Linked DNA regions of Homo sapiens. The protein of the gene in region 1 purifies or fractionates together with the protein of each later gene. This does not show direct contact. Each region holds a gene or a part of one and is shown on either strand. Other genes may lie near its edges.

Region 1 (5,502 bases):
CAGCCAACCAACAAGCATCCAAATGTGCTTGGCATGCAGGAGACACAAGAACAAAGAGTTTATAGTCCAACTGGGAATATGAAAACAACAAACAAAAACATTTGAATAGACAAATGCTATAAAATTCAAGCACTAAGGAGCACAGCTCAAGCTAGAAATACTAACAGAATAAGAAGGCATGGATCAAAGAGCCTTCCCTGAGCCAGGTAAGATGAAGATGACTGACTCAGTAGAAGTGTAACGCAATTATCGGCCTGTGAATTGTCCACAAAACACCCTTCATTGTTCCATCACAGAGTACCATGCAGAGTGCGAAGGAGAAGTCGGGAAAAATGTGGATGGTACATTCCAGAGCCAGATATAATTTCTGGATTACTTCCCCATTATCAAGAGCAGATAATTGGGAGTTGATTATAGCAAGATAGTAAAATGGTTCCTTTAACAGCAGCACCTGCTATACAGCAATTTTATGTTTTCTCTTTCTGTGAAATTATGGAACACATAAATGACTGAGAATGCTTTTGAAACTGAACTCATGCTCCTCACTATTTTCTATTTTATTCATGAATGGGTTCATCTATAGGGCTTTTTAAAAAGCCTCAAGCAGAGAATAAAACACTCAAGCAAAAAGCTCATTTTAGGAAAATGAGCAAATATAGAGTAAGGCATTCCCCAAACCAGATACCAGGAAGCTAGGAACAGAGGCCTTACCTGGCAGGAGGAAGCCTCTGCTGGGGTTGGCATTCAGCCACTGCTTACAGTAAGACTCTTCATCAGGCTTGTTGATGAATTCAAAATGACAGGGTACTTGTCCATTATGAATTGTAAAGGATTCTACTTTCAATTGCATGTACTTCACATTCTGAAAACAGAACTGGGAAGAAGCCCGGGGCCAGTGAAAACCAGTGCCCTTTCCTCAGCAACCTGCCCAGCCACCCCAACTGGGCAGTCCTTACCATGGAAAGAAAATGAACCATCTCTTTTAAATGTTTCTGCTTTAAGTATCTACCTGGGAGGCCACAGTTCCCACTAAAGACTAGTTATCTGTGTTTAACCCAAAATCCAAAAATTCCGTTTGTTTTTGTATGTCTACTTCCTGAAGAAGTCAAAGTTTATATCTTCTATACCCAAAAACCATTTACAAAATACCCTTCACAAATTCCACTTCTAAACATGAAGATCAAGCCCATCCTTCCAAGTAGCTGGACATCTAGGGCATTAAAAATGCCATCTGCGGCTGCCACAGTGGCTCAGGCCCATAATCCTAGCAGTTTGGGAGGCCGAGACGGGCAGATCACTTGAGCTCAGGAGTTCAAGACCAGCCTGGCCAACATGGCAAAACCCCATCTCTACTAAAAATACAAAAATTAGCCAGGCATGGTGGCACAGCCTGTAATCCCAGCTACTGGGAGGCGGAGACAGGAGAATTGCTTGAACCTAGGAGGCGGAGGTTGCAGTGAGCCGAGATCGTGCCATTGCACTCCAGCCTGGGTGACAGAGTAAGACTCTGTTTAAAACAAACAAACCAAACAAAAAACGCCTTCACCTTAAACCCCAATTTGACTTTGTAGAATGTCAAGTGTGAGTGATCTTCCATGTGGCTCTTCCATGAAAAACCTTCAGACCATATTCAACTTCCTATATTACCTATTCCTTTTCTATACTGTCTTCCCTCCCATTAACTCATGGGTATCCAAACTCAATTTAATCTCAAAGCAAAGCATCAGTAAGAAGAAAAATCCATTGCAAGAATACACAATAGTTATTCTAAAATCAAAACACATTTTGAACCATATTCTGGTTTAGAAGAATAGGACATGATGACCTAAGCCAACAACCTCTCTCTTCTCAGCTAACACCATCAGCCTCACTTTATCGAAAAGCAGTCTATCAAGAAAGACCACAGTCCATAGTGCTATAGGTGCCTCCTAGAACTCTGAGCTCCAATAGATGAGGAGATTTAAGCTCTAGGAATAGAAGAGCCCAACACTAATCTTTTTTTTTTGAGATGGAGTCTCACTTGGTCGCCCAGGCTAGAGTGCAGTGGCGCGATCTCGGCTCACTGCAAGCTCCACCTCCCAGGTTCACGTCATTCTCCTGTCTCAGCCTCCCGAGTAGTTGGGACTACAGGTGCCGACCACCACGCCCGGCTAATTTTTTGTATTTTTAGTAGAGACAGGGTTTCACCGTGTTAGCCAGGATGGTCTTGATCTCCTGACCTCATGACCTGCCCACCTTGGCCTCCCAAAGTGCTGGGATTACAGGCGTGAGCCACTGCACCCGGCCTGAGCCCAATGCTAATATTCTTAACATGTCCTTCCTACCTCTCGCTTGGACAGGGACACAGAAGGAATGTTGGCATTTTCCATCTTATCCAGGGAGCGAACAATTTCCTCCAGTGTCTTCCGGTAAAGCTCGTCATTTACGACCCTCACCTGAAAGGGAAACATCAGAGACTGAGTACCTTGGCTTCTGCCCATTTCCTCTTTCTCAGTATAGACGGCATTCACAGCACTGGGAAATAGCAGTTGATAGCAACACAGAAAACAAAGGCTATAGATTTAGTTAATTAATGAACTCCATTAACAATTGACTTAGAAGGATCTGCCAGAGGCAAAGCTTGTGGTACAGGCATCTGCTTCCTGATTACCAGAAAAAAATACATGGAAGTGAAAGCATGGTTAGCAGTTAGTTCTGCCAGGTCTTAGGACCAGGGCAGAAAAATGCTTGCCCAGTACCTAGCTCTATTTTGCTTGCTGCCACCAACAGGCCAGCAGTGAGAACTTTTTCTAAGGCTTTGATTTAAAGCAGTGTTTCTCAAGTTTGTTTTTTTTTTTTTTTTGCAACAAGGTCTTGCTGTCACCCAGGCTGGAGTACAATAGAGTGATCTTGGCTCACTGCAACCTCCGCCTTCTGGGTTCAAGTGATGCTCCTACCTCAGCCCCCCAAGTAGCTGAGACCACAGACACAAGCCATCATGCCCAGCTAATTTTTTTACTTTTTGTAGAGATGAGGGGTTTTGCCATGTTGCCCAGGCTGGTCTTGAACTCCTGAGCTCAAGCAATCCACCCACCTCAGCCTCCCAAAGTGCTGGGATTACAGGTGTGAGGCATTGTAATGATAATAAAGAGCCACCACAGATAGATAATAAATAAATGAGAAGGCTCATGCCTGTAATCCCAGCACTTGGGGTAGCCAAGGCAGAAGGATCACCTGAGCCCAGGAGTCACTTGAGACCAGTCTGGGCAAGACAGCAAGATGCTGTCTCTTTAAAAAAAAAAAAAAAAAAAAAAAAAAAAAGGGCCCGGTGGCTCACGCCAGTAATCCCAGCACTTTGGGATGCCGAGGTGGGCATATCACGAGGTCAGGAGATCAAGACCATCCTGGCTAACACGGTGAAACCCCGTCTCTACTAAAAATACAAAAAAAAAAAAAAAAAAAACCATTAGCCGGGTGTGGTGGCGGGCGCCTGCCTGTAGTCCCAGCTACTCGGGAGGCTGAGGCAGGAGAATGGCGTGAACCTGGGAGGCGGAGCTTGCAGTGAGCCGAGATGGCGCCACTGCACTCCAGCCTGGGTGACAGAGCAAGACTCCATCTCAAAAAAAAAATTAGTCAGGTAAGGTGACACACACATACAGGCATGCCTGTAATCCTACCTACTGAGGAGGCTGATGTATGTGGGAGGATTGCTTAAGCCCAGCAGATTGAGGCCGCAGTTCGCTGTGACTGTGCCACTGCATCACTGCACTCCAGCCTGGGTGACAGAACAAAACAGTGTCTTTTGAAAAAAAACAAAAAGAAAAGGCTGGGAGCGGTGGCTCATGCCTGTAATCACAGCACTTTGGGAGGCCGAGTCAGGTGGATCACGAGGGCAGGAGATCGAACCCCATCTCTACTAAAAATACAAAAAAATAGCCAGACGTGGTGTAATGTGCCTGTAATCCCAGCTACTTGGGAGGCTGAGGCAGGAGAATCGCTTGAACCCGGGAGGCGGAGGTTGCAGCAAGCTGAAATCACGCCACTGCACTCCAGCCTGGGTGACAGAGCGAGACTCCATCTCAACAGAAAAAAAAAAAAAGGAAAGGAAGAAAAAGATGCTGATCTCATAGGTAATCAGGGAAATGTAATCTAACATGATAAAATATCTGCTTATTGGGTTGGCAAAAATTTTGAAGACTGATAAAACCCAATATTGACAAGGGTATGGGAAAATAAACTTATACATGGTTGGTAGAAGTATAAAGTGGTAAAACTGTTGTGAGGGTAATTTAGCAAGATCTAATAAATTTAAAATACATTTTTTATTTGAACCGCTAATTTCATCTCTAATAATTTCATTCTATAGAAATACACTGATACACAAACATACATGTGAAGGGTGGTCACAACAGCACTGTGTATAATAGCAAAACTTTGGAAATAACTTTATGATCATCAATACATACATTATGGCTCATCCATACTATGGAATACTTTGCAACCTTTAAAAATAATGAGAAGAAAGCTCTACCTTCACTGTCCTGGAAAGATCTCCTAAGACATATTCAGTCAGGGAAAAAAAGATGTCCTCAGAGCAAAATGTATAATATGATCTCTTTTACAAAAAAGGAAAAATATCCTCAATGTTGTATACACAATACTGACACACCCATTTATAAACGCATAGAGAAAGGTCTGCAAAGAGACAGTTCAAAAATGCAAAAGGGAACTTCCATGTATGAGGAAAAATGCAGAGGCATACTAAAACAATTATTAACCAAGTTGTTAATAATTGTTTTAAATTGTCCTAAAAGGGGCTTCTTCCCTCTCAAAAGGAGAGGAAGAAACCAGAAAGACAAGAAATGGTCTTAGTTGTGAAAGCCAATTCCCTCCAGAATGATTACAACAGGTACCAGCTGCCACCTACCCCGATGTCAAACACTGAGCTGACAGGCTTGTGGTCACTGGTCTTCAGGGCCATGTGGCTCTGGTAACTCAGCTGAGTGATGTTCTTCCCTTTCCAGAGAATCCGATCACACCAGGCAGGAGCACGGCACTTCTCACTGAAATGCAAAGTCCACACTGGAAGTACTCACAGAAACAGCAGTGCCCGCTGCCTGGCGAGTGCCCTGGCTCAGGTGGGGAGTGATGAATCAGGGCCTTCATGTCCATGTGGCTAAGTCATCTGAGGCAGCAAGAGCAATTCGGGCCCACCAAGGGATAACATGTATCCTGTGGGTATCATCCAAAACAACCATGAAAGCTCAAAGCCAAAACAGAGTTCAGACTGATTCTCTGATCTTTATCCTCCTATGAGAATCAGGAGAGAATTAAAAAACCAATCTGACAGTAAGCATGCTATGGTCTTTATTTTTTATTTTTATTTATTTATTTATTTATTTTTATAGAGATGGAGTCTTGCTCTGTCGCCCAGGCTGGAGTGCAGTGGTGTGATCTCAGCTCACTGCAACCTCCACCTCCCAGGTTCAAGCAATTCTCCTACCTCAGCCTCCCGAATAGCTG
Region 2 (3,578 bases), on another chromosome or scaffold:
AAGGCATGAAATCAGTCTTAAAAATTGAAATGGGGGTGATGGGGGAGAAAAAGAAGAACAAATTTGAAGTGCCCTTTCAAATCTGCTGGATACAAGTATTGAAGTTTTAAGTCATCTTATTCTGTCTGAAAGTGTATTTTTCATTCTACAATAGACCCAATCAACAAGACGTATAACTTGAGTTGCATGATGTTCAGTTTATGTAATCTACTGTTGGGATGGTAAGAATTGATGTAGGCTGTGGTGTAAGAATGAATTAAAATATAGTTTCACTGGCTTTTCTCTACATATCCACTATCACAATGGCTAGGTTTCCTGTTGCTCACTATTGGATTCTGGAGAAAAATTTAATGAAAGATGATATCAGAGGAAGAATAAGTGGAGGTAGAGAAGAAAGGAATGATAGAGGAGGGGAAAAAAACAAAACATATTTTTGTGTTATCCAAAGGAGCTTTTTCCTTATTCTGTCAAGCATTGAGATCTTCTTCAGCTTTCAATGTAGTTGCTAAATACAAATAATGCTACTAGGTAGTGACTAAATATAGCAAACACTTCATCAGATATTAGAATTAGGTCACACTATTGAGGTTATAATCTGAAGGTTGTGTTACATAGAAACCACTTTAGATTATTATCAACTTGGACTAGGCTTTATTTTATAATAGCATAGTAAGTAATATCTATTGTGTCATTTCTTCAACCATTTTATTCTAAGATCCATGAAGCTTCTTGAGGCCAAATAAAATAATAAGTTTAGACAAGAAGTAGATTGTGACTTTTTTCCCTTAGAGATACTATTTACTATCTCCTATCCTGATAGGTGGAAGGTTTACTGAATTGGAAATTGGTTGACTATTAGTTTTTAACTAAAATGTGCAATAACACATTGCAGTTTCCTCAAACTAGTTTCCTATGATCATTAAACTCATTCTCAGGGTTAAGAAAGGAATGTAAATTTCTGCCTCAATTTGTACTTCATCAATAAGTTTTTGAAGAGTGCAGATTTTTAGTCAGGTCTTAAAAATAAACTCACAAATCTGGATGCATTTCTAAATTCTGCAAATGTTTCCTGGGGTGACTTAACAAGGAATAATCCCACAATATACCTAGCTACCTAATACATGGAGCTGGGGCTCAACCCACTGTTTTTAAGGATTTGCGCTTACTTGTGGCTGAGGAAAAATAAGTAGTTCGAGGAAGTAGTTTTTAAATGTGAGCTTATAGATAGAAACAGAATATCAACTTAATTATGAAATTGTTAGAACCTGTTCTCTTGTATCTGAATCTGATTGCAATTACTATTGTACTGATAGACTCCAGCCATTGCAAGTCTCAGATATCTTAGCTGTGTAGTGATTCTTGAAATTCTTTTTAAGAAAAATTGAGTAGAAAGAAATAAACCCTTTGTAAATGAGGCTTGGCTTTTGTGAAAGATCATCCGCAGGCTATGTTAAAAGGATTTTAGCTCACTAAAAGTGTAATAATGGAAATGTGGAAAATATCGTAGGTAAAGGAAACTACCTCATGCTCTGAAGGTTTTGTAGAAGCACAATTAAACATCTAAAATGGCTTTGTTACACCAGAGCCATCTGGTGTGAAGAACTCTATATTTGTATGTTGAGAGGGCATGGAATAATTGTATTTTGCTGGCAATAGACACATTCTTTATTATTTGCAGATTCCTCATCAAATCTGTAATTATGCACAGTTTCTGTTATCAATAAAACAAAAGAATCCTGTTTGTGTGGTTTCATGAAATCAGCATTGTTGAATGCATGAAGTAATAATGCTAAATTAACATTTTTATGATGTCTCAAGGTTTCTGGTCAAGGGAAGTAAATGTAGGATAGTATTTTTACACCAAAATGACACAGAGAGAATTGAGCACACCAGAAAGACCAGAAACCACACCACTGGATAGAGATTCAATATGTTTCTTTTTCAAACATTTGGACAAGAAAAAAATGGGCATTTAAAAATTCTTCCTTCCCCTGGTTATGGATTTATCTGTAGTAAAACTTAGCTTTGTCGTTTGAGATTTGCACAGAATGGGGGGAGTAGATTACCTCTTCCCATTCATTGTCATAATGGATCTACATCACTGATAAACACCATACTTCTATATGTGGTTAACTAGCTTTAGAATAAAAGACACTTTAAAAAGTAAAAGGCCTAGAGATCTTCAATGAAGTGTCCCTTTTAGCCAAACCAGGCCTTGCAGAAATTGTCCTCAAAAGCACCAAGGGAGAACAAAGCCAAGTGCAGAATTACCCAAGGGTCACACATTTTGTATTCATTTTCTTATAATTTGCCCAAATGATTTGAAGTACAGCAAAACCTGAAGTTTTGCAAAGAGTTACTGTAAACTGAACTTAAAAATGTCAGAGTGCTCGGTGACCCACTTCTCCAGACCCTGTCAACCTGTGAAAATATTGGCCTTTATTCAGATCTCTCAAGAAGTTACGCGCAGAGTTTGGAAGGTCTAGGCAAAGGTTATTAGTCAAGTGTTCTTACAGTGTCAACGCTCAATTCCCACAAGCGTGAGAAAGAGAGACCTGTCATTCCTGAGGGTGATGACATACATTTACTGGAGCTTATATAATTTATCAGATAAGACAGCAGTTTCCTTCAGGGTAGAAAGTGTGTTTTCTACATTGATTTAGTACAAAACAAAAAGAAAAGGGGATATTTCAAATTTTATAATTATTTTTCTGCTAAGCTGATTCAGTGTGATTTAAGCATATTTTTCAAATCATGAATCTGATTCCATATACATATGTGCCTTATATTGTGATAATTTATTTTTAAGTGAAATATGCTATCATAGCCTGACTTTATGTATAGTGGTGACAACTTGCAGGATCGCATTTCTGTAACCAAACGGCCGACAGCTGAGGTGTAGATGCTTCCTATGGTCTGTAGAATAATCACTGGGCTTGTTCTCTAGCTATGTCTGTATGCAATCGCGACAGTGTTGATCAAAACCCATGATCATTCTCTCCAAAGGTCTTTGTCACTAAGCCACTAGGGATTCTGAAAAGTTCGTGAGCTGAAACAAATAAATTGAGTTGGAAGATTCATGTTGACTGTTTGTATCCCAAATGCAATATACCAGTTTTTGAAGCTGAACTGATTACATTAAAAAGGGATCAAGCTGCATTTGTTTTAAAGATAGTTACATGACCAAAAGTTGCTCAACATCATTGGTCATTAGATATGTGCAATCAAACCTGCAATGAGATATCACTTCACCCCAGTTAAAATGGCCTATATCCAAAATGCAGGTAATAACAAATGCTGGTAAGGGTGCAGAGAAAAGGGAACCCTCTTACACTGTTGTTGGGAATGTAAATTCATACAACCACTATGGAGAACAGTTTGGAGGTTCCTCAGAAAACTAAACATTGAGGTATGATATGATCCAGCAATCCCACTGCTAGGTATACATCCAAAAGAAAGGAACTCATTACATCAAAAAGATATCTGCAATTCTATTTTTGTTACAGCACTGTTTACAATAGCTATGATTTGGAAGCAACCTAAGTGTCCATCAATAGATGAATGGATGAAGAAAATGT

What was found. Proteins that work in one complex are often made in the same cells at the same time.
Region 2: the proteins of INPP5B (region 1) and BCAT1 fractionate together in Homo sapiens (co-fractionation; one large-scale study listed by BioGRID). This does not show direct contact.

What each region holds. Positions count from the first base shown.
Region 1 is NC_000001.11:37,873,282-37,878,783, forward strand, and holds part of INPP5B (type II inositol 1,4,5-trisphosphate 5-phosphatase isoform 1 precursor), read right to left. Parts: intron 5,290-5,502; exon of another isoform or gene 5,043-5,289; coding exon 4,907-5,042; intron 2,436-4,906; coding exon 2,325-2,435; intron 875-2,324; coding exon 712-874; intron 1-711. UniProt on the Homo sapiens protein: Hydrolyzes phosphatidylinositol 4,5-bisphosphate (PtIns(4,5)P2) and the signaling molecule phosphatidylinositol 1,4,5-trisphosphate (PtIns(1,4,5)P3), and thereby modulates cellular signaling events.
Region 2 is NC_000012.12:24,809,524-24,813,101, reverse strand, and holds the end of BCAT1 (branched-chain-amino-acid aminotransferase, cytosolic), read left to right. Parts: 3' UTR 1-3,078; downstream 3,079-3,578.